Homo sapiens: one gene and its partners. The protein of the gene in region 1 purifies or fractionates together with the protein of each later gene. This does not show direct contact. Each region holds a gene or a part of one and is shown in the gene's direction. Other genes may lie near its edges.

Evidence for each region. Proteins that work in one complex are often made in the same cells at the same time.
Region 2: the proteins of GPR183 (region 1) and ITPRIPL1 purify together in Homo sapiens (affinity purification with mass spectrometry; 3 studies listed by BioGRID and IntAct, with this or other methods). This does not show direct contact.
Region 3: the proteins of GPR183 (region 1) and TMEFF1 purify together in Homo sapiens (affinity purification with mass spectrometry, with the first as the bait; 3 studies listed by BioGRID). This does not show direct contact.

The regions. Positions count from the first base shown.
Region 1 is NC_000013.11:99,304,396-99,311,441, reverse strand, and holds the start of GPR183 (G-protein coupled receptor 183), read left to right. Parts: upstream 1-4,042; 5' UTR 4,043-4,102; intron 4,103-7,046. UniProt on the Homo sapiens protein: G-protein coupled receptor expressed in lymphocytes that acts as a chemotactic receptor for B-cells, T-cells, splenic dendritic cells, monocytes/macrophages and astrocytes.
Region 2 is NC_000002.12:96,320,880-96,328,336, forward strand, and holds the start of ITPRIPL1 (inositol 1,4,5-trisphosphate receptor-interacting protein-like 1), read left to right. Parts: upstream 1-4,437; 5' UTR 4,438-4,686; exon of another isoform or gene 4,687-4,867; 5' UTR 4,868-4,960; coding exon 4,961-4,970; intron 4,971-5,317; exon of another isoform or gene 5,318-5,728; coding exon of another isoform or gene 5,729-5,762; coding exon 5,763-7,420; 3' UTR 7,421-7,457. UniProt on the Homo sapiens protein: Functions as a ligand of CD3E, inhibiting TCR-CD3 complex signaling to regulate T cell activation.
Region 3 is NC_000009.12:100,567,144-100,574,168, forward strand, and holds part of TMEFF1 (tomoregulin-1 precursor), read left to right. Parts: intron 1-5,374; coding exon 5,375-5,533; intron 5,534-7,025. Other genes in the region: MSANTD3-TMEFF1 fusion protein, read left to right, coding at 5,375-5,533.

The DNA.
Region 1 (7,046 bases):
TAAATCTTCCAATGCCTCCCCACCTACAGTCATGACAAAGACGTCCCAGGCCCTGAATCTCCATCCCCATTCTGATCCTGTGCTCCGCAGGACAGCACCTTCTCAGAGAGGTCCTCCCTGACTGCCCCATTTCAAACCGCACCTCCCGCCCTCACAGCCTTCCCCCTCTGCATTCTCTACTCTCTTCCTGACTGTCCTCCCCCACAGCACTTACAGCCTTCTCATCACTGCCTATCTATCTTAAAAGTAGAATGGAAGCTTCACATAGATGGGGATTTTGGTCTGTTTTGTTTTATTCCCACTGTCTAGAATTGTGCCTGGCATAGAGTAAGGTTTCAATAAATATTTGCAGAAGAAATGAATTTTCCTTTAAAACAGTAAAACCATACAGCAGAACTTGCCTTTTGTTTTAAAAAGCCCCCTTCCTTTTTATCATTTTTAATGGGATTAAAACACATGGTTTCATATGTAGCTCAAAATATGGCCTGCTCTCTTGGTGATTATAGAACCCTATTTGGGGAGCCAATCGCACCAGAGGTCTCTTACCACAGAACATGCCCTTGGAGGCGCTTAATTCATAGAAGTTCTTCTGTTTACATTTAGTAATAAAGTACAAATAGTGATGTTATAACTAAATAACCTAAAGCAGAGTTCTTTTTTGAGGTTACATTTCAACGTAAACTAAAAAAAATACTGGTAGAAATTTTAATGACCACAGTTTACATTTCACATACCAATAGAAGTTTAAAAACTCCTTTAAAAATATTAATCACTGTATAATTTTAAATGATGACTAAATACTAGGCCACACATACACATTTCAGACCAAAATTATATGGGCTGTTCTGCAGAAATTTTCCGTTGCTATTTCTACACACACAGACTTCACAAAATACCATAATGTTATTAGTCACTGACCAGTCTTTTTCTTTTCCTTATTTTATGACAACATCTGTTCTCTATACTGTCAACAGTAATTCAGTTTGACCTTTTTCATACTGTGAAGAACTACCTTCTGGAAGCCCTTTCTGGCTTAAGCAGATGAGGCTGGTAGCACAGAAAAGAGAAAGCAGGTTATAAACATTTCATCCATCCTTTCTTTTTTTCTTGAGACACCGGTATCTGTCAGTCACCCAGGCTGGAGTAGAGTGCAGTGGCATAATCACGGCTCACTGTAGCCTCTAATTCCTAGGCTCAAGCAATCTTCTCGCCTCAGCCTCCAGAGTAACAGGGACTACTGGTGTGTGCCACCACACCTGGCTAATTTTTAAACTTTTTTTAGAAACAGGGTCTCGCTGTGTTCCCCACAGTGATCTCAGACTCCTGGCATCAGGCAATCCTCCTGCCTCAGCCTTCTGAATTGCTGAGATTACAGGCGTGAGCCATTGCTAATTCATCCTTTAAAATCACTAATATTTACTGAGCATCTACTGCTATATATTCATGATCGCACTCGATAGAAAACATAAAATAACAGAGACACCTTGTTAAGGTTGCAAATGTCCATTTCACTTCTTCTATAGAAAAGGTCACTGGATGTGGTGGCTCATACCTGTAATCCCAGCACTTTGGGAAGCCAAGGTGGGCAGATGGCTTGAGGTCAGGAGTTTGAGACCAGCCTGGGCAACATAATGAGACCTTGTCTCCACACACACACACAAAAAAATACAAAAATTAGCTGGGCGTGGTGGCATGTGCCTGTAGCCCCAGCTACTTAGGAAGCTGAGGTGGGAGGATCACTTGAGCCCAGGAGGCAGAGGTTGCAGTGAGCCAAGATCGTGCCACTGCACTCCAGCCTGGGCAACAGAGTGAGACCCTGTCTCCAAACAAACAAACAAAAAAACTGTAAAGGCCAACTCTACTTTTACAGTACAATCACAACTCAAGAAACCCTGGTAACTTTCAACAGCAATAAAAACAAGGTTTGTGAGCTCATGAAATGATCTAATATACAGCTTCAGCGGCCTCTTACAGGATAATGACCCCATCACCTCTTCTTCATCTGCCTGACTACTCTGATATCAAAAAAAAGGGGCTGGGCACGGTGGCTCACACCTGTAATCCCAGCACTTTGGGAGGCCAATGCAGGCAGATCATGAGGTCAAGAGATTGAGACCATCCTGGCCAACATGGTGAAACCTTGTCTCTACTAAAAATACAAAAATTAGCTGGGCATGGTGGCATATGCCTGTAGTCCCAGCTACTCGGGAGGCTGAGGCAGGAGAATTGCTTGAAGCCGGGAGGTGGAGGTTGCAGTGAGCCGACAGCACACCCCTGCACTCCAGCCTGGTGAGAGCGAGACTCTGTCTCAAAAAAAAAAAAGAAGGTTGGGAGGACAGATCCAGTTTGTCAGAGGAATTACTTGAACTAGCTGAGTCCTTCACTATATAAAAATGTTTTACTTAATATAACTATTTCAAAATTAACAGGCAAAACCCCACCAGAATGGTCTTTCAACAAACTGAAAAATTTATCAACAGTGTCTTCTTCAAGTACTCTGCAGCCTAAGTTTTAAATGAACTAGTTCTAGAATATGATGTCATGTTTATCCACCAAGTCATAAAATCTCTGTATTACCCCCTCATAGAATTTTTGTACTAGGAATTACCTTGGAGATCATTTAGTTCAATACCTTTATTTTATACACAGTGAGGTGGCGGCCCAAAGAATTCAGCTGACTTGCTTGATGCTCTTTCTTGTGTCTGACAATGTTCCTCCATACTCACAGCACTTTAGACGTTAGAAGAACCTAATGACATCTGTGGGAGGCAAAAGCTACTCGACTATTTTTACAGAATCCTGGAGCAGAAAGGCTTCTGAGATCACAGAGTTACAAATTCCTACCAAATGATTCAATTCTGTTTACATCATCCCTCAAAATCATCAAGTTTACTCAAGCATCTAAATAAGAAACAGCATATTCCATTTTTCAAAATAATCACAACTTTTGGGAATGACTCTCATCTTTTGATCCAAAAGCTATGTCCAGTAACTTCTTACTGACCCTCCCGCTAGTCTCTGGAGTTAGGAAGACTGACACAAGCAATGTAAACACTTTTCTATGAGAGTTTCCACAAGCATAAGGATAATGACCCTATGCCTACAAAGCATACACATCCCCAGCTTATTTAATCAGTTCTCCTAAGACCTGCTATCCAGGCCCCTCACTGCCACAGGTGTTATCTATGTCTTCGTAAAAAGCAGCACCCAGAAGTGGCTGGGAATGGCCAGATCAGTCCTGACTAAGTGTAAACATCACCTCTCCTGATCTGAGTGCTACATATCTGGTAATTTAGCCTACAAATAAACTGCATTCTGACAGACACGTTAGTTGGTTTAAACTGAGTCAACTACAACTATGAGGTGAATGGCATGAGTCTCTTTCACCCTGTGCTGAAGAGGCTGGATTTTATCTATAATGGGCCTCCCTTCAACTGTTTCCCTGTTATTCAAGTACTCACACAGCCTCTGACTCAGGCAGCCTCTCGACTGAAAACGGCGACTAATCCAGTCCACTCCACATCCTGGACTGTCACTCACCCCCACGCCACAGAAACCTGTTTCTTTCTCATAAGCTGTGGATAAGGTGGAATGTGTAAACTACTCCCTGATACCAAGTTTCCAGGTAAAAAGCACTGTCAAAGTTGACACTATTTTCCTTAAAACATTTAAAAACCCATACTTTTACATGCAAAATCAATATAAAATCATCAGTAACTTGGTCTTTTTTTTGGTTAAGGTTTATTGCTTCAGTCTCTTTCAAAGAATTTTTTGATACTTAAACCTTTACAGAAAAATTTATAAAGTTCCACAGATATCAACAATTCATAAATTCCAAGGGGCTTTTGGATAGTTTTTTTTAATCACTATAAAAAATTTCACTTCCCATTTAAAACAAAAAAAAACACAAAGTGCACACACGTACACGAGGCTAACTGCTCATTACATGCTCAGTCACAGGGTGACAGAGAAAAAAAAAGTCACCACCATAAAAGGAGGTCTGCACAGCCTCTCTTAAAACAACATGCCACAGTTAAAACTTACTTCAGTTTGGACAACTACTCACAGCTACTACACAGAGACCCGAACGAGTCACTGATATGTAAGTACAAGATCTTTTGCTTTTTCAACAAACTTTTTAAAGAAAAACTTTAAAAGCCTAAGTTTTAAGGTAAAAGGTAAAAAGGAAAACAATCTATTTAAGAACAAGCTACCATCACTTCTAACAAAAATTATATTAATAATGTAAGTTTACTCTCTCTGCTGACTGGTAGGTCTAGTTAGTTCTTATAAAGTTGACTGAAAGCGATGGGTCCACCAGAAATATCTTTGTCAAAAAATAGGGCTCACTTCATGTACTACTGTATAAACTCACAATGACAAAAGACAGTATCAAGCAAAACTATGCAAATAATGCCAATATTTCAGGATAACTTAGTATGAAGGAAAAGGAACAAAGTTATTTTAATATAGAATATTCCTATGCTATAGGAATTATTAGAAATATAAGATTATTTCTCAGGATAGAATCTCAGGGGTAGAATTCCTAGGGCAAAGGGTATATTTTCTAAAGCTTTAGATATAAAACGGTACTTTTTGGTCTACAAAAACATTTTACCAATTTACCCTCCCGCCAGCAAAGAGTACCAATCTTTGCTTTTTAAATGCTAAATACTACTAATTAGATAAGTGAAAAAAAAGTCTGTTGTGTGGTTTATACTTGTGTTTACTTAGACTAAACGTATCTTTTCTATGTGCCTGAGGGGAAAAAATCACAATGAATTCTATGCAGTGCTTTGGCAACATTTATGTCCAGGTTGGGAATGGTGGTAACAGAAACTTGGCAAAATAGAAGCTGTGAAGAGACTTCCTTTAAAGGGCAGTGAGGGTTTTATATATGTGTGTTTGTGTGTGTGTTGGGGGAGGGGGGCGTGGTATTTTGTTTTTTTGGTGTCACTCTGAGTACAATATAGTGTAATAAGAGCAAGGGCTCTGAAATCAGGATCAAATGAAATTTACAAGCTGTGTGGCCCCCCCACACACAAGTTACCTAATATCTGGCTTCAGCTGCTTTACCTGTAAAATGGGGAGTATTACTACTGCCAAGTCCTTACAACATTGCCTCTCATTATAAGTGCTAAAAAACTGTCTCCCATCATTCTTCTCCCATCTCTCTGGCCACTGACGTACCAGAGGGTGAATCCAACAGATATGTTATGGATATTTTACATAAAGACCCTGAATCAGGCTGGGTGTGGTGGCTCACTCCTGTAATCCCAGCACTTTGGGAGGCCGAGGCAGGCGGATCACCTGAGATCAGGAGTTCGAGACCAGCCTGGCCAACATGGTGAAACCCCATCTCTACTAAAAATATAAAAGTTAGCCAGGCACGGTGGCACTCACCTATAATCCCAGCTACTCAAGAGGGTGAGGCAGGAGAATCCCTTGAACCTGGGAGGCGGAGGTTGCAGTGAGCCGAGATTGCGCCACTGCACTCTAGCCTGGGCGACCATGCGAGACTCTGTCTCGATAGATAAATAAATAAATAAATAAATGGCCCTGAGTCTATGGATGATCACACATCTAACTGTGCTTACTGGTAGGACTGCACACTTCTTATATTTTAGCATGTTTTCTCTCTGCGGGTTCACTGCACTTTTTGGACATAAAACCACAAAGAATATGCTACTCCACAAAATGTTCACTCACATGTTTATGTATCGCGTTAGTGACAATGGTAATGATCCCTTGCATAAATTACTTTCATCTGGCTTCCTAGAGCTAATTAGTACCATGACCAGTCAGTTAATGGAATAAATATTAACTCAGGTTTCTATATGACTTTAATTCATTTATTTATTCTATAGATATTTACTAGATATCTATTGTAGGTTGGTTCTGTAGCATTCTATAGGATAAAATGTTGGATGAGATCAAGTCATCATCCTCAAGAAGCTTACATTTAAAAGAGCTTCGCACCTAATAAAGCCGTTTACAGGGATACTTTTCTCTCTGCTATGGTTAAGACCTGCTGGAGTTGTTAGGCAGCCCTGGACGTGGCCTGTGTAGAGGACGCGTGGTGTTCTCCAGTCTGGGGGGTTTATCACCTTCTCAAGAAGTCTGGGCATTGTATAAAATGAGATAACACATGTGAGAATCCTCTGAAAGCTGTGACAGTAACACAGATGGCTGTGGTGTTTTGGAAGCCCAAAGAGAAGAATAAAAATATTTTGTTAAATCTCTGCAAATATCTAAAAAGTAGTTTAAAAATCAATTAACAGCATAAAAGCCTATTCTAGATATTCACCATCTTTTTTCAATCGAAATTTCAGTCTAAATTGTTTTATTATTAAAATACTGTTAAAACAGTACTCTAAATCCATTTATAAAACCTTTACTTACTTTAAAATATGCTACAAATAAACTAATAAACTCCTTCATTTGAATCAACATCTCTTCCTCCCTGCTCCCATTCCCTTCCCCCAGTTCTCCTAGTCTCTCTTGTTCAGATAGGTATGAGTTAGTGTACGTTAAGGTTTTGAGATGCCTTCCTATTTTACTTGTTTTCTACCCATAATAGCAGATCACGTCGGAAATAGGAGATAAAATGTATTGTACTGAATGTGACTTCTGAAGCCAAACTGCCTGGGTCTGAATCCTAACATTTAACAGCTAGGTCTTTGGTCACTTAAGTGCCCTGGTGCCTCCGTTTCACCTTCTGTCAATGGACTTGTGAAAGTTCTGAGAGGATTCAATGAGTAAACACACATAGAGTGCCCAGGGCAGTGCCTGGAACACAGTCTCTGCTTAGTAATTTTAATTGATTATTATTCATCAAGGGCTTACTGGGGTGTAATAAAGAACCTTTCATTAAGGATTAAGAAAGCTGCAATGTTGCTATTCTTTAACTAATGGGTATTTATTGAATATCGATCATACATCACCTAGAGATACAAGAAATTAACACCATAGGGTCCCCACTCACAGTACTTCACAGGCTCATGGGAGACAGGGAAGAAAATCAATGATGCAGACACTATGACAGA
Region 2 (7,457 bases), on another chromosome or scaffold:
GGTACAGTCTCTATCCCACCGCAAACTCTCTCCTATTTCTCATAGCTGGATCATCCTGTCACTCACTCATTTCATAACACTTAGCACTTGCACACCAGGAATTAAGCTAGGTCTAATTTTGGTCTTTGCCCTTAAGGATCCCAGTGTGATGCTGTAAGGACCCAGTGAACACTGTTGAGCCCAGGAGCGAGGTGACTAATCCGTGAGCCAGGTGCTCTAAATATACAGTAAAGGGCCATTTAATTTTTGCACCAACCTTAAAAGAGAAGGACTTTTGTCGTCATGTTTGCCAGATTAGGAAGCTGAGGCTCAGGGAGGTTCGGAACCTTGCCGGACCGAGTTGGCAGGAGGCGAGACGAGGCTCTAAGCCCTGCTCCCAGAGCTCTTTCTCCCCCATCAAGCTGCGTCCACGCGGTTAGGAAGCATCGCTTGGGCCCTGGGGGATGGGCAGCGGCAAAGGAGAGCTTTTTCCTGTCCGCTCGGGGAAGAGCGCCCAGGGGAAAGGGGTTGTGGGTCCCGGCACGCGGCACTACGCTCCCCGTCCCCCGCCTCGTCTTTCTTCGGCTCGGCCCGTGGGGCTTCCGCCGCCCTGGGCTTGCAGCTGGGACTCATTTCCAGATCGGTCGAAGGCAGGTCTTCCTTCTAGGGACCGGTAGCTCAGAGGAAGGACCGGCGGCAACCGCTGCCCTGTCCGAAAGTGCGTCTCCTTTTTCATTCCGAAATGAAATTCGTAGTTGGTTAAAACGGGGCTTGCCAGCACGATTTACAAACAAGACGAGCGCTCGCTGCAATCACATGAGGAGAAAAGGAAAGGACTAATTCATAATGCGGTCACTAGAGCCTCGATGTGCCCAGGGGAGCGCCCGCCGAGCGCCAGCGGGAACAGCGCATCGCGGACGCTGCAGGGAGTGTGGCCCCTCCGCAGGCGCGTGCACAGGCTCGCATTCTGGAGGGCAGCGCATCTCAGCCGTGCGCCCGGTCCTTGCCACCCCAAACTCCGGCAGCGAACAACGCGTCCTGGGGGCGGCCCCGCGGCTGCTCTTGGAGGCGGCGGAAAAGGCGCGTCCGCGGCTTGGGGGACGGAGGCGGGGTCGGGGGCGAAGGGAGGCGGCTCCTGGGGCCCAGAAAGCTGGCGAGGATGAGGAACCTCCCCCCACCTCCACTCCCAGCTCTCCGAACCGTGAAGACACTGCCCCGGCGCAAAGCGTCTCTAGCGGTCCTAGGCGCACCTGTTTCTGTAGAAAACGTGTTTTGTGCTCACGAGGCACACGAGGGAGGGCTTTGGGCACACAGCCCATTCATACGCTGGACACTGCATGTTTATTTTTGTGAAAAGAATACCTCCTTATTGCTAGACACCTGCAATCAATCCCTCCACCCTCAGAAGATCACTGTAAACATTTAGGGATCCACCCTTTGAAACTTTTCCGAGGCATGTGATGCACAGACACACACACATAATGGGAGTAAGCCATAGCATGTTCTTTTTTTTTTTTTTTTCTTTTTTTGAGAAGGAGTTTTATTCTGTTGCCCAGGCTGGAGTGCAGTGGTGCGATCTCAGCTCACTGCAACCTCCACCTCCCGGATTCAAGCGATTCTCCTGCCTCAGCCTCCTGAGTAGCTGGGATCACCGGCATGCACCACCACGCCCAGCTAATTTTTTTTTTTTTTTTTTGTATTTTTAGTAGAGACGGGGTTTCACCGTGCTGGCCAGGCTGGTAGCTGGGATCACAGGCATGCACCGCCACACCCAGCTAATTTTTTTTTTTTTTTTTTTGTATTTTTAGTAGAGACGGGGTTTCACCATGCTGGCCAGGCTGGTCTCGAACTCCTGACCTCAGGTGATCTGCCTGCCTCGGCCTCCCAGAGTGCTGGGATTACAGGCGTGAGCCATCGCGCCTGTCCAGCAACCACTTTTAAAACAAATCCTTAACCATGAACACACATTTTTAAGCATATGGTTTTACAGATGCTGGTGAAAATGGGGAGAAAAGGGAACTCTGATATGCTGTTGGGTAAACTAGCACAGCTGCTATGGAGAATAACATGGAGGTTCCTCAGAAAACTACAAGTAGAACTACTCACATGATCTAGCAATCCCATTACTTAAAATCTATCCAAAGGAAAGGAAATCATTATATCAAAGAGAAATCTGCACCCTCATGTTTATAGCTGCACTATTCAGAATAGCCAATATGGAATTGACCTATGTGTCCAACAATAGATGAATGAATAAGGAAAACGTGGTATATGTACACAATGGAATGCTATTTGGCCATAAAAAAAAATGAAATCCTGTCATTTGCAGCAACTTGGATGGAATTGGAGGATATTAAGTGAAATAAGCCAGGCACAGAAAGATAAACACCACATGTTCTCAGTCACATGTGGAACCTAGAAAAAGTTGATGTAATAGAAGTAAAAGGTAGAACAGAGGATGCTAGAGGCTGGGAAGGGGAGGGGAAGGTGGTGATAGGGAGGGATTTGTTAAAGGATTCAAGATTATAGCCAGATGGGAGGACTAAGTACTAGGGTTTCACACCACTGTAGGTTGACTACAGTTAACAATAATAGACCAGGCATGGTGGCTCATGCCTGTAATCCCAGCACTTTGGGAGGCCAAGGTGGGCAGATTGCTTGAGCTCAGGAGCTCGAGAACATGGTGAAACCCCCACTCTACTAAAATACAAAAAAATTGCCGGGCTTGGTGGTGTGTGCCTGTAATCCCAGCTATTTGGGAGGCTGAGGCAGGAAAACTGCTTGACCCAGGAGGTGGAGGTTGCAGTGAGCTGAGATGGTGCCACTGCACTCCAGCCTGGGTGACAGAGCAAGACTCCGTCACACACACACACAAAATAATAATAGTAATAATATATAGTTTCAAATAGCTAGAGGGAGGATTGAACCTTCCCAACACAAAGAAATGATAAATGTTTGAGATGATGGATATGCTAATTACCCTAATCTGAAATTATACATTGTATGTATGAAACATGACTGTGCACCCTATGAATATGTACAATTATTATTTGTTAATTAAAATAATACAACTTTAAAACACATGGTCTTAAACATTATCGTTTTTGCACACTCTGAAGCATATATTTTGCATCCTGACATCATGTCATAAGTGAAAAGATAAGAGACTTTCATTATTACTGCTCCAAATGCATGAATGCTCAATAACCTGTGATCTATTTTTCATAATTCACATTTATAAAAAGTAACTTTGGAACTTCAGTCATTGTCAGCTAGCAGACAGTTTTTCCTGCTCCACAATTAAATAAGTCAGTATTCTTGGAAGTATTGTACAAGTTGTTTGGGAGCTCCCTACACATTGCCACTGGATAAGAAGACCTGAAACCCAGCCATGTGTGATGGCTTACACATATAATCCCAGCATTTTGGGAGGCCGAGGCGGGCAGATCACCTGAGGTCAGGAGTTCGAGACCAGCATGGCCAACATGGTGAAACCCCGTCTTTACTAAAAATACAAAAATTAGCTGGACATGGTGGCATACACCTGTGGTCCCAGCTACTCAGTAGGCTGAGGCAGGAGAATCACTGGAACCTGGGGCGGGTAGGCTGCAGTGAGCCAAGATGGTGCCACTACACTCCAGCCTGGGTGACAGAGCGAAACTCTTTCTCAAAAACAAACAAACAAATAAAAACCCTGAAACTTGTCTTTCAGCAGAGGGATTTTAGTGAGTTAGTATCAAGGGGTCATCACTTCCTTTTCTTCTTGGATAGCTGACACAAGACAGGAAGACTAAGGGCTCTTTCTGATATCTGAAGATCCCTTTCAGGAAACCCATTCTGTTGTGTTTCTTAAGGTGTGATAAAGCTTGTCCAGCCTCCACACCGTATAAAGTTCTCCTTTATACACCCATGTATCAGCAGAGCTGCCCTGTAGGTAGGATTCTTACTCCCACGTGGCCAGTGAGTAGCAAGCAAGGCCCCAAGTAAGGTCTTTGGGTGCTGTCTGTTCTTTCATGAGAGTCACTTTGATATGAGAAAGGGGTTGGGGAAAGATGCCTGAGTCTGGGCGTGGGCTGGGAGGGAAGCACATTTAGGGTGCTGAAACCACATCTTATTTCGTGTGCCATTTTGCTCAGGGCCAGCCCGAAGTGAGAATGGCTTTTCTCGGTCAATTCCTAGTTTTGCCACCATCATCCTTACACCCGAATCCTAGTAAGTCTGTTCTCCACTGAACTGAGCTGAGTGCAGCTGACAGCAGGCACGGCGGTGCCCCATTTGCCACCCCAGGGAGGCCGAGCAGCGGAGAGTGTGTGGCCACGGCCCCTCCACTCTCCCAGCAAACCCACGGGGGCCTCGGTGCGGACAGAGACCCGGTGTGGGGAGGCCGCTGCCCCTGCACGCTGGGCCACGGGGGTTTGGGCGGGGAGGAGCTTGTACTGGGTGGGCGGGGAGGAGCCCGGACGGCGGGAGCGGCTGCGGCGCGCGGGCGCCCTCGGAGCCGCGTGCTGGGGGTCGTAGGGGCCCACCGCGCTCAGCCAGACGTTCAGACGCTCGGACAAGCATGGTCTATAACCCAGGAAAGGGGAGCAGGGCCACTCCCGCGGGCGGCCCCAGCGATGAACCGGACGCCCCCACCCTGCCGGGAAAAAAGCAGTGGCGGTCAGGCCGCGCTGTCTCTTTAAGATCGTGTTCCTACTAACACTGACGGTGAGTAACCTGGCCCTGGGTCCCGGGAGACATCCCGAGGTAGGATGGGCCCTTGGCCTCCTACGGATAGGCGGGTGAGAGTACAAATCTCTGGGCGTGGAATTTGGGGAAGTTATGAATGGGGGGAGGGTCGGGTTCCGATTTGAGCCAAAGCCCCCAGGTACCTTGTACATTTTAACAGGGCTCCTAGAGAGGGCGGGGAGACGAAGCAAGGCCAAGTTCCAAAGGGAGGATAGGCCCAGCTGGCTTCAGCGTCCACACGGCATAGTCCTTCATGAATGTTGGTAAGCGCGGTAGCTTGTGAATTAGGGTGAGTGGCAGAAGCTCGGGCTTCACGGGTGGGTGGGGAGGCAGTGGAACTGACCACTGCCGGCTGTCAGGTAGGCCTTGGGCACCTGGTTCTGCAGACAGTTTTCTGAACTAAGAAGTGAAGCTAGCCTGCCCACACACGGGGTATCCACTAGCCCCTTAGGAGCAGAGAGGGCACCGTAGCAAGCAGCTGGCGGCACTGTGCCTCTCTTGCGCTCCCTGGGCAGAGAGGGAGAGGCTGAGTGATGAGGCTCACTTCATACTGGGTGAGCAGAATGAAGACTGTGAAGTCACAGAGGAAGTGGAATGCTACAACTGGCTGCCGGGGCAGAGGAAAGGTGTCACCCAGGCAGGTTCAGGGCTTTCTGGCTATAAAAGGGAGCCTCTGGGATCAGCAGGTCATATCTGGTGCCCATGGTTGACTGAGGAGTCGGGTGAGGCCACCCTACCACAAGGGTCCCCCTCCCCATCCTACACAGGAATGAAAACAGTCCCATGTACACTTTCTGGAAGCCTAAATACCACCCACACCATGTGGAAGGAAAGCAGGAGAGAGACTGAGTGGCACATCCTTTCGCCCTCTTTTCTCTCGAACCTCCTCCCAGGCCGACCACCCTTGCTGTGTCCAAGCCAAGCTCTGTGGGCTTTCTGTTCCTCCTGAGTAGCTGATTTTCAGAATTTGGGGTACCAGGGCTCTGGGGAATGTGAGCTAGAGAGCAGATAAGTCTGGAAGATGACCACTGACTCCTACTCTCCTACTTCTCCAGATGCAGAGGCCTCCATGGCTGTGATAAGCCTGCTGTTCTTGGCAGTGATGTATGTTGTTCACCACCCTCTGATGGTCAGTGATCGGATGGACCTGGACACATTAGCCAGGAGTCGGCAGCTGGAGAAGCGAATGAGTGAGGAGATGCGCCTGCTAGAGATGGAGTTTGAAGAGAGAAAGCGAGCCGCTGAGCAGAGGCAGAAGGCAGAGAACTTCTGGACAGGAGACACATCCAGTGACCAGTTAGTGCTGGGGAAGAAAGACATGGGGTGGCCGTTCCAGGCCGATGGCCAGGAAGGGCCTCTGGGCTGGATGCTGGGAAACCTGTGGAACACTGGCCTCTTTTGCCTTTTTCTCGTCTTTGAGCTCCTGCGACAGAACATGCAGCATGAACCGGCCTTTGATTCCAGCAGTGAGGAGGAGGAGGAGGAAGTCCGTGTTGTCCCTGTCACCTCTTACAACTGGCTTACTGACTTCCCCTCCCAGGAGGCCCTGGACTCCTTTTACAAACACTATGTCCAAAATGCCATCCGTGACCTGCCCTGCACCTGTGAGTTTGTGGAGAGTTTTGTGGATGATCTCATTGAGGCCTGTCGGGTGCTCAGCCGCCAAGAGGCTCACCCACAATTGGAAGACTGCCTGGGCATCGGGGCTGCCTTTGAGAAATGGGGAACCCTCCATGAGACCCAGAAATTTGATATCCTGGTGCCCATTGTCCCCCCACAGGGCACCATGTTTGTCCTGGAGATGAGGGACCCAGCCCTGGGCCGCCGCTGTGGCTGTGTGCTGGTGGAGTCAGAATGTGTGTGCAAGCGTGAGAAACTCCTAGGGGACGTGCTGTGCCTGGTGCACCACCACAGGGACCCCTCGGCAGTCTTGGGGAAGTGTAGTAGCTCCATCAAGGCAGCTCTCTGCACCGGCTTCCACCTAGACGTGTGCAAGACTGTGCAGTGGTTCCGGAACATGATGGGCAATGCCTGGGCCCTTGTGGCCCACAAGTATGACTTTAAACTCAGTCTCCCACCGTCTACCACCTCCTGCAAGCTCCGGCTGGACTATCGCTCAGGCCGCTTTCTCTCAATCCACTTGGTCCTGGGGGTGCAACGAGAAGACACCTTGGTCTACCTGGTGAGTCAGGCTCCTGACCAGGAGCAGCTCACCAGTGTGGACTGGCCTGAGTCCTTTGTGGCCTGTGAGCACCTGTTCCTGAAGCTGGTGGGGCGCTTTGCCCCCGAGAACACCTGTCACCTCAAGTGCCTCCAGATCATTTTAAGTCTCCGGCAGCATCAGAGCTTACCCCATGGAGCATCCCGCCCCATCCTCACTTCTTACCATTTTAAAACAGCTCTCATGCACCTCTTGCTACGGCTGCCCCTCACGGACTGGGCCCACAACATGCTCTCTCAGCGGCTCCAGGACATTCTCTGGTTCTTGGGCCGTGGCCTCCAGCAAAGGTCCCTCCATCATTTCCTCATTGGTAACAATTTTCTGCCCCTGACCATCCCAATCCCTAAGACATTTAGGAATGCTGAGCCGGTCAATCTCTTCCAACACCTGGTGCTCAACCCCAAGGCACATTCACAGGCAGTGGAAGAGTTCCAAAACCTTCTGACCCAGGTGAAAACTCTGCCTCATGCCCCACTGGCTGCAGCACCTTGATGTAAAGACCATTAAAAAAAAAACAGAGGAAGGTATT
Region 3 (7,025 bases), on another chromosome or scaffold:
CTCCTCTCCCTCACCCCCTCTTCTGCAGCCACACTTGCTGTTCTTGGGCATGCCATGCATGCATGGATGCTCCCACTTTAGGGGACTTGCACTGGCTCTTCCTTTGCCTGGTATGCTGTCCTCCAATTGTTTGCATGGCAGGCTCCTCACCTCCTTCAAGTCTTTACTCACGTGTTACCTTCTTAACCTACCCGGATTGCCTTATTTAAAATTGCAACCCTCCCTTCCTGCAACTTTCCTGGCTCATACCTGGTGTTCGCAGTTTCCCTTAACACCTCACACCCCACATCCCCTGTAGTGCATATCACCTTCTAACATAACCATTTAATTCACTTACTTTGTTTATTGACACTCTTCTCCCGGTAGCTGGTAAGCAGGCCAGGGATCTTTATCTGTTCTGTTCACTGATACATCCCAAATGCTCACCACAGTAGGTGCTCAATAATTGTGGTAAATGGATGTGTGAATGAATTCACACGTGAGACAGTGGGAGTGAATGGGATTGCCTGTGGAAGGTGTTTTGGGATGAAAATAGAAAGTGGAGGACTGAATCCCTGGATCTGCCTTTAATCAGTAACAGAAGAAGAAGTAATAACCTAGAAGTTAGTACTCTAGGTATTAGGAGAGTGTATTAGTCTGTTTTCACTGCTAATAAAGACATACCCAAGACTGGGCAATTTACAAAATAAAGGGTTTAATTGGACTTACAGTTCCACGTGGCTGGGGAGGCCTCACAATCATGGGGGAAGGCAAAGAGGAGCAAGTCACATCTTACCTGGATGGCAGCCAGTAAAGAGAGGGCCTGTGCAGCAAAACTCCAGTTTTTAAAACCATCAGATCTCGTGAGACTCATTTACTGTCACAAGAACAGTGCAGGAAAGACCTGCCCCCATAATTCAATCACCTCCCACTGGGTTCCTCCCACGACACATGGGAGTTGTGGGAGTTACTATTCAAGATGGGATTGGGGTAGGGCACAGCCAAACCATATCAGATAGTATAACCAAAAGTCAGTTGGAGAAAATGATATCCAGGGAGAACTGCAGGGATGATATATGGCCTATTGGTTCTTTTTGATACTCTGATTTTAATCTTTGGCTTAAGCCAAACCATTAGAGAGCTGCATATCTAGGACATTGTTACAGCTCCTTATGGAACTGTTTTTATATTACTGAGCTTTGACTATTGGCCATTAGCCTACCATGAAGGACATTATTTAAAAAATCCCATGAGACTTCATTATATCATTGAATTTACTGCAGCTGTGTTGTTGAGGATAATGTTCTTTATGTTAGAAGGTGCCCTCTTTAAATGAGGACCAATGAGATTAAGTTCCCTTAAGTTTCATAACAGTAATAACTGTGCTTCTTTTGAATGACTTGTTTGATTTTATTTTATGGAGATTGTATTTTGTGTCAACTGTCCTCCCTCCCTCCTTCCTTCCCTCCCTCTCTTCCTTCCTTCCTTCTCCATTGGTGTTTAATATATGCACAGAGTTGTGCAACCATCACCACAATCAATTTTAGTACATTTTCATCTCCTCAAGAGGACACCTCATACCCTTTAGCTTTTACTCCCAAATCCCCTCATGCTCTCTAGCTCTAGGCATCCGCTAATTTATTTTCTATCTCTATAGACTTACCTATTCTGGATAGTTCATGTAAATTGAACTATATAGTATGGGGTCTCCTGTGTCTAGCTTTTTTTAACTTAGCGTAATATTTTCCAGGTTCATCCATGTCATAACACATATCAGTACTTCATTCCTTTTTGTGGCTGAATACTATTCCATTGTATGGATGACACCACATGTTTTTAATCTACTCATCATCAGTTGATGAAAATTTAGGTTCTTTCCACTTTATGGTTATTATGAAAAATGCTGCTCTGAATGATCATTTGCAAGTTTTTGTGTGAACGTGTTTTAATTTCACTTGGGTAAAGCTTAGTGGTAGAATTGCTGGGCCAAATGGTAACCCTGTGTTTAACATTTTGAGGAGCTGCCAGACCGTTTTCCAAAGTGGCTGCACCATTTTACACACCCTACAGTACCTTTGACAACACTTGTAATTATCTGACTTTTTGATTTAGGCTATCGTAGTAACTGTAAAAACTGGCATATACGGTGGCTTTGATTTTTATTTCCATGATGGCTAATGATGTTGAGCATCTTTTCATGTGCTTATTGGCTATTTGTATATCTTCTCTGGAGAAATGTCAGTACACATCCTTTGCTCTTTTATTTTTTGGCTATTATTGAGTTGTATTAGTTATTTATATATTCTAGATATAAGTCCCTTATCAGATATATGGAACTTACTTTTTTTTTCCATTTTGTGGCTTGTCTTTTCACTTTCTTGATAATGTCCTTAAGTACAAAAGATTTTAATTTTGATTTAGTGCTATTTATCTTTTTTGTTGTTGTTGTTGCTTTTGATTTTTGGTGTCATATCTAAGAAACTGTTGCCTAATCTAAGGTCACAAAGATTTACTCCTATGTTTTATTCTCTTCTAAAAATTAAATTTATTTAAAAATTGACAAAATTATGTATACATATTATGTACATCATATTTGGAAATATATATACATTGTGAAATGTCCAATCAAGCTGATTAACATATGCATTACCTCACATTGTTACCACTTTTGTGGTGAGAACACTTAAAATCCTCAGCATTTTCCAAGAATACACTGCATTGTTAACTATAGTCACCATGTTGTACACTACATTTCTTGAACCTATTCCTCCCATCTAACTGAAATTTAGTATCCCCTGACCAACATGTCCTCAAAGCACCTCCTACCACACCAGTCCCTGGTAACCACTATTCTACTCTCTACTTCTATGAGATCAACTTTTTTAGGTTCCACATATGAGTGGGATCACTCAGTATATGTCTTTCTATGCTTGGCTTATTTCACTTAATATAATGTTCTGGAGGTTCATCCATGCAAATGATAGGATTTCCTTCTTTTTTATGGCTGAATAGTATTCCATTTTGTATATATACCTCATTATTTTATCCATTTATTTGTTAATGGACACTTAGATTAAATCCATATCTTAGCTATTGTGAATAATGCTGCAATAAACGTGGTAGTGCAGATATTTCTTCAATATACTGATTTTATTTCCTATAGTTATATACCCAGTAATGAGATTGCTGGATCATATGGTAGTTTTATTTTTAATTTTTTGAGGAACTTCCATACGGTTTTCCATAATAACTGTATCTTATGTTTTTTTTCTTCAGAGTTTTATAGTTTTAGCTCTTACGTTTAGATCTGCGATCCATTTTGAGGCAATTTTTGTGTATGACACGAGGAAGAGGTCTAGCTTCATCCTTTTGTGTGTGGATATCCAGTTAGCACCATTTGTTGAAGAAACAGTTCTTTCCCCATTGAGTTATCTTAGCACCCTTGTCAAAACCAATTGACCATAGATGTATGGGTTTATTTCTAGGCTCTCCATTCTCTTCCATGATCCACATACCTGCCCACTGCTTGTTTTTTTTTGTTTGCTGGAAAGCGTAGAGCCCAATGTGAAATGTACTGGGAAGTGTCTAGGAACCTCAGGGACTGGATTGGTAGACTTGCAGCACCCCTGGATTTCCCTGTTTCCCTCCTCCCACATTTCTTTTTTGTTGTTTTAATGTGTGCTTTGCGATAAGCTGCCTCAAATTCTTTTCTTAATGAGTTGTGGGACATTCATAAATACTGTTTTTATACTTCAAATGTTTTATTAATCAGTTCTCACTGAAGGCTGGCTAATTTATACATTTCACTGCTGTCAGCTTAAAAATGTAAATTGTCTGTTAAGTGTCTTAAATATTTCTCCCTGTCAAATTATCATCAGCTGATGCAGTTGTCTTTTTATCTACTTTTAATTGGAATTCAGATAATTTCCAAGATTAGCACCTACAGCTTACCTCCTTGACTGCTTGACATTGTTTCTGTTATTAATAACTTATTTTCATCTTCCCCTTGCATCTTACATGTTTATATTTTATACACTGAAAAGTGTCTTGAATATAATTTGGTGCTATGTTCAGAGGACTGTAAATGTTTATACCTATTTTTTCAATAGTCTTAATTTTCAGGTACTTAGCCCTAAGGAATAACACTAAATATAGAAAAGCGCATATTCACCAAGATGTTTACCACATCTAATTTATAATTGTGAAAAATTGAAAATAACTGACATGTCTTAGAACTGGGAATAGATAATGCTAGCTATATTATAGTCACTGGATGGAGTATTATATTTCTGTTTTGAAATTATATGTATCTATTTTGAAAAAAATGCTAAGAGAGTAGATTTTAAGTGTTCTCACCACAGACATGATAACTATATGAGGTAATGCATATGTTAATTAGCTTGATTTAGCCATTCCACAATGTCTATACATTTCCAAATATCATGTTGTACATCAGTGGTCCCCAACCTTTTTGTTGCCAGGGACTAGTTCCGTACAAGACAGTTTTTCCATGGACTGGGGATTGGGGGTGGGGGTGATGGTTTGGGGATGATTCAAGTGCATTACATTTATTGTGCACTTTATTTCTATTATTATTACATGGTAATACTTAATGAAATAATTATACAACTCACCATAATGTAGAATTGGTGGGAGCTCTGAGCTTGTTTTTCCTGCAATTAGACAGTCCCATCTGGGGGTGATGGGGGACGGTGACAGATCCTTAGGCATTAGATTCACATAAGGAGCACTCAACCTAGATCCCTTGTGTGCGCAGCTCACAATAGGGTTTGCGCTCCTATGAGAATCTAATGCCAGTGCTGATCTGACAGGAGGCGGAGCTTGGGTGGTAATGTGAGTGATGGGGAGTAGCTGTAAATACAAAGAAGCTTTGCTTACTTGCCCACCACTCACCTCCTGCTGTGTGGCCTGGTTCCTAACAGGCCATGGACCAATATCTGTCCATGGCCCGGGAGTTGGGGGGGATCCCTGTTGTACATGATAAATATACGTAATTTTATTTGTCAATTTTTAAGCAAATTTAATTTAAAAAGTGAAAAAAAGGAGTAAATCTTTGTGGCTTTAGATTAGGCAATAATTTCTTAGATATGACACCAAAAGCAAAAGCAACAATAACAAAAAAAGATATACATTAACAATATTCAGCAACTTTAAAATTAATGTGATATAACTTAGGTGAAAGACGCACCATGTAGGCATATCAGAAAGACAGTAGGGAAACATACAAATGACATTTTTCCCCCAGATGGTAGGAAAGTGCATGATATCCTATTCCTGTTTAAATTTTATTACTATTTTGTATTTTTTAATGTAAAAGCTTGGGAGTATCAAAATTTGTAATTTTCATAGGAATATATATATTTTTCCTTTTCAGATGTGAATCTGGCTACACTGGACAGCACTGTGAAAAGACAGACTTTAGTATTCTCTATGTAGTGCCAAGTAGGCAAAAGCTCACTCATGTTCTTATTGCAGCAATTATTGGAGCTGTACAGATTGCCATCATAGTAGCAATTGTAATGTGCATAACAAGGTAGGTAATGATGTAAGAAATATCAACTTTAAATTAGAGGCAGGCAACTGTTTATTTATAGATGCTTTGAGGCCACCAGTCTATTAGGAAAAATCTTATGATCAGTTCCCTGAGGTTTTCAGTGGTCTCTCCCTATCCTTCTTCTTTAGGATACGGGCAGGGACTAATTCCCAGTCTTACAGGTATATCTGGGCGACAAGCAGAGAGGGAATGAGAATAGTCAATGAGATAAAGGAATTTAGGGATCTGAGAACTGTATACAGTCTTTGAACACTGTATTCTGGGAAAATAATGTTAGTAGCAATCTTTTTTTTTTTTTTTTAAGAGACAGGGCCTCACTCTGTTGCCCAGGCTGGAGTGCAGTAGCAATTAGAGCTCATTGCAGCCTCAAATTCCTGGGCTCAAGTGGTCCTCCAGAGTAGCTGAGACTATAGGCGTGAACCACCCTGACTGGCTCAGAATTTCTAGAATGATCTGCACATGCATAGGAGATCCATGCAGAAGATTTTTAAGCCCTGCACAACTGCAAGGGGTTCTGTGCCCTAAGAACGTACTTTACTCACAGTTAGTATAGTAAGAAAGGAAGAAATCAGAGGCTGAAGATAGTTTTATTGTGATATCATGGTGTTAACATTACTTCATTTTCAGGATTGCAGCGATAAGTAATAAGCTTTAAAATTCTGTATTATAAATAAAATTATTCGTCATAAATTAAATGACTTATTTGGAGTGCAGTGGCATAAAATGGGTCTTTTCTAAACTGAGTAGAAATACATAAGTCAGACTGAACTGGGCCTGAGAAAAGTCAGAGTAAATCCAGCAAGTTCGTGTTGTCTTTGTGCTTCCCAGTCTAATGCTTTTCTTCCTGCTTACCTCTTTCTTTAAGCTTCAGTTCAGAAGTCTCATAAGCATCATTTCTCCACTTCCCTGCATTATTCTGGGCAGAGGGTTGAAGCATATCAAATACAGATATTGGCAGGCCATAATGGATTTGTGGCCCTTCTATCCAAGGTCTGGATAGAAGCCAGACCTTCAGTAGTCTCAGCCATCTGGAGCTGAGATGATAAATCTAGAAATGATAAAAAAGAAAAGGTTCTCCAAGTAACAGATATTTTTCATAACACCTAGGCATGAAAGTCAGTGCGCTTTATTTCACAGAACAGATGATCTGCCCTTAGGCAAGACTACTGAATATAAAATTGGACGGTAGATCAAAGTAGGGACATAATCATGTAACAAATAATGATAACAGAAAGAGAAGATAGGGAAAACACATTTAACAGCATGACTGGCTGTAGCCATTTAATATAGACTCAGAGGTTAAGTAATTTGTCTGTGGTCATCCGACTAGTAAGTGGAATTGTCTGGATTTGGATTCAGTTTGATTCCCATTCATTCTTTACACTGAAAGGTTCCATGTTGAGTCATCTTGGGAAACATGTTTGCCCAGTATGACCATTGCATGGGAGCAGGGTTCAAACTTGATTTTGTA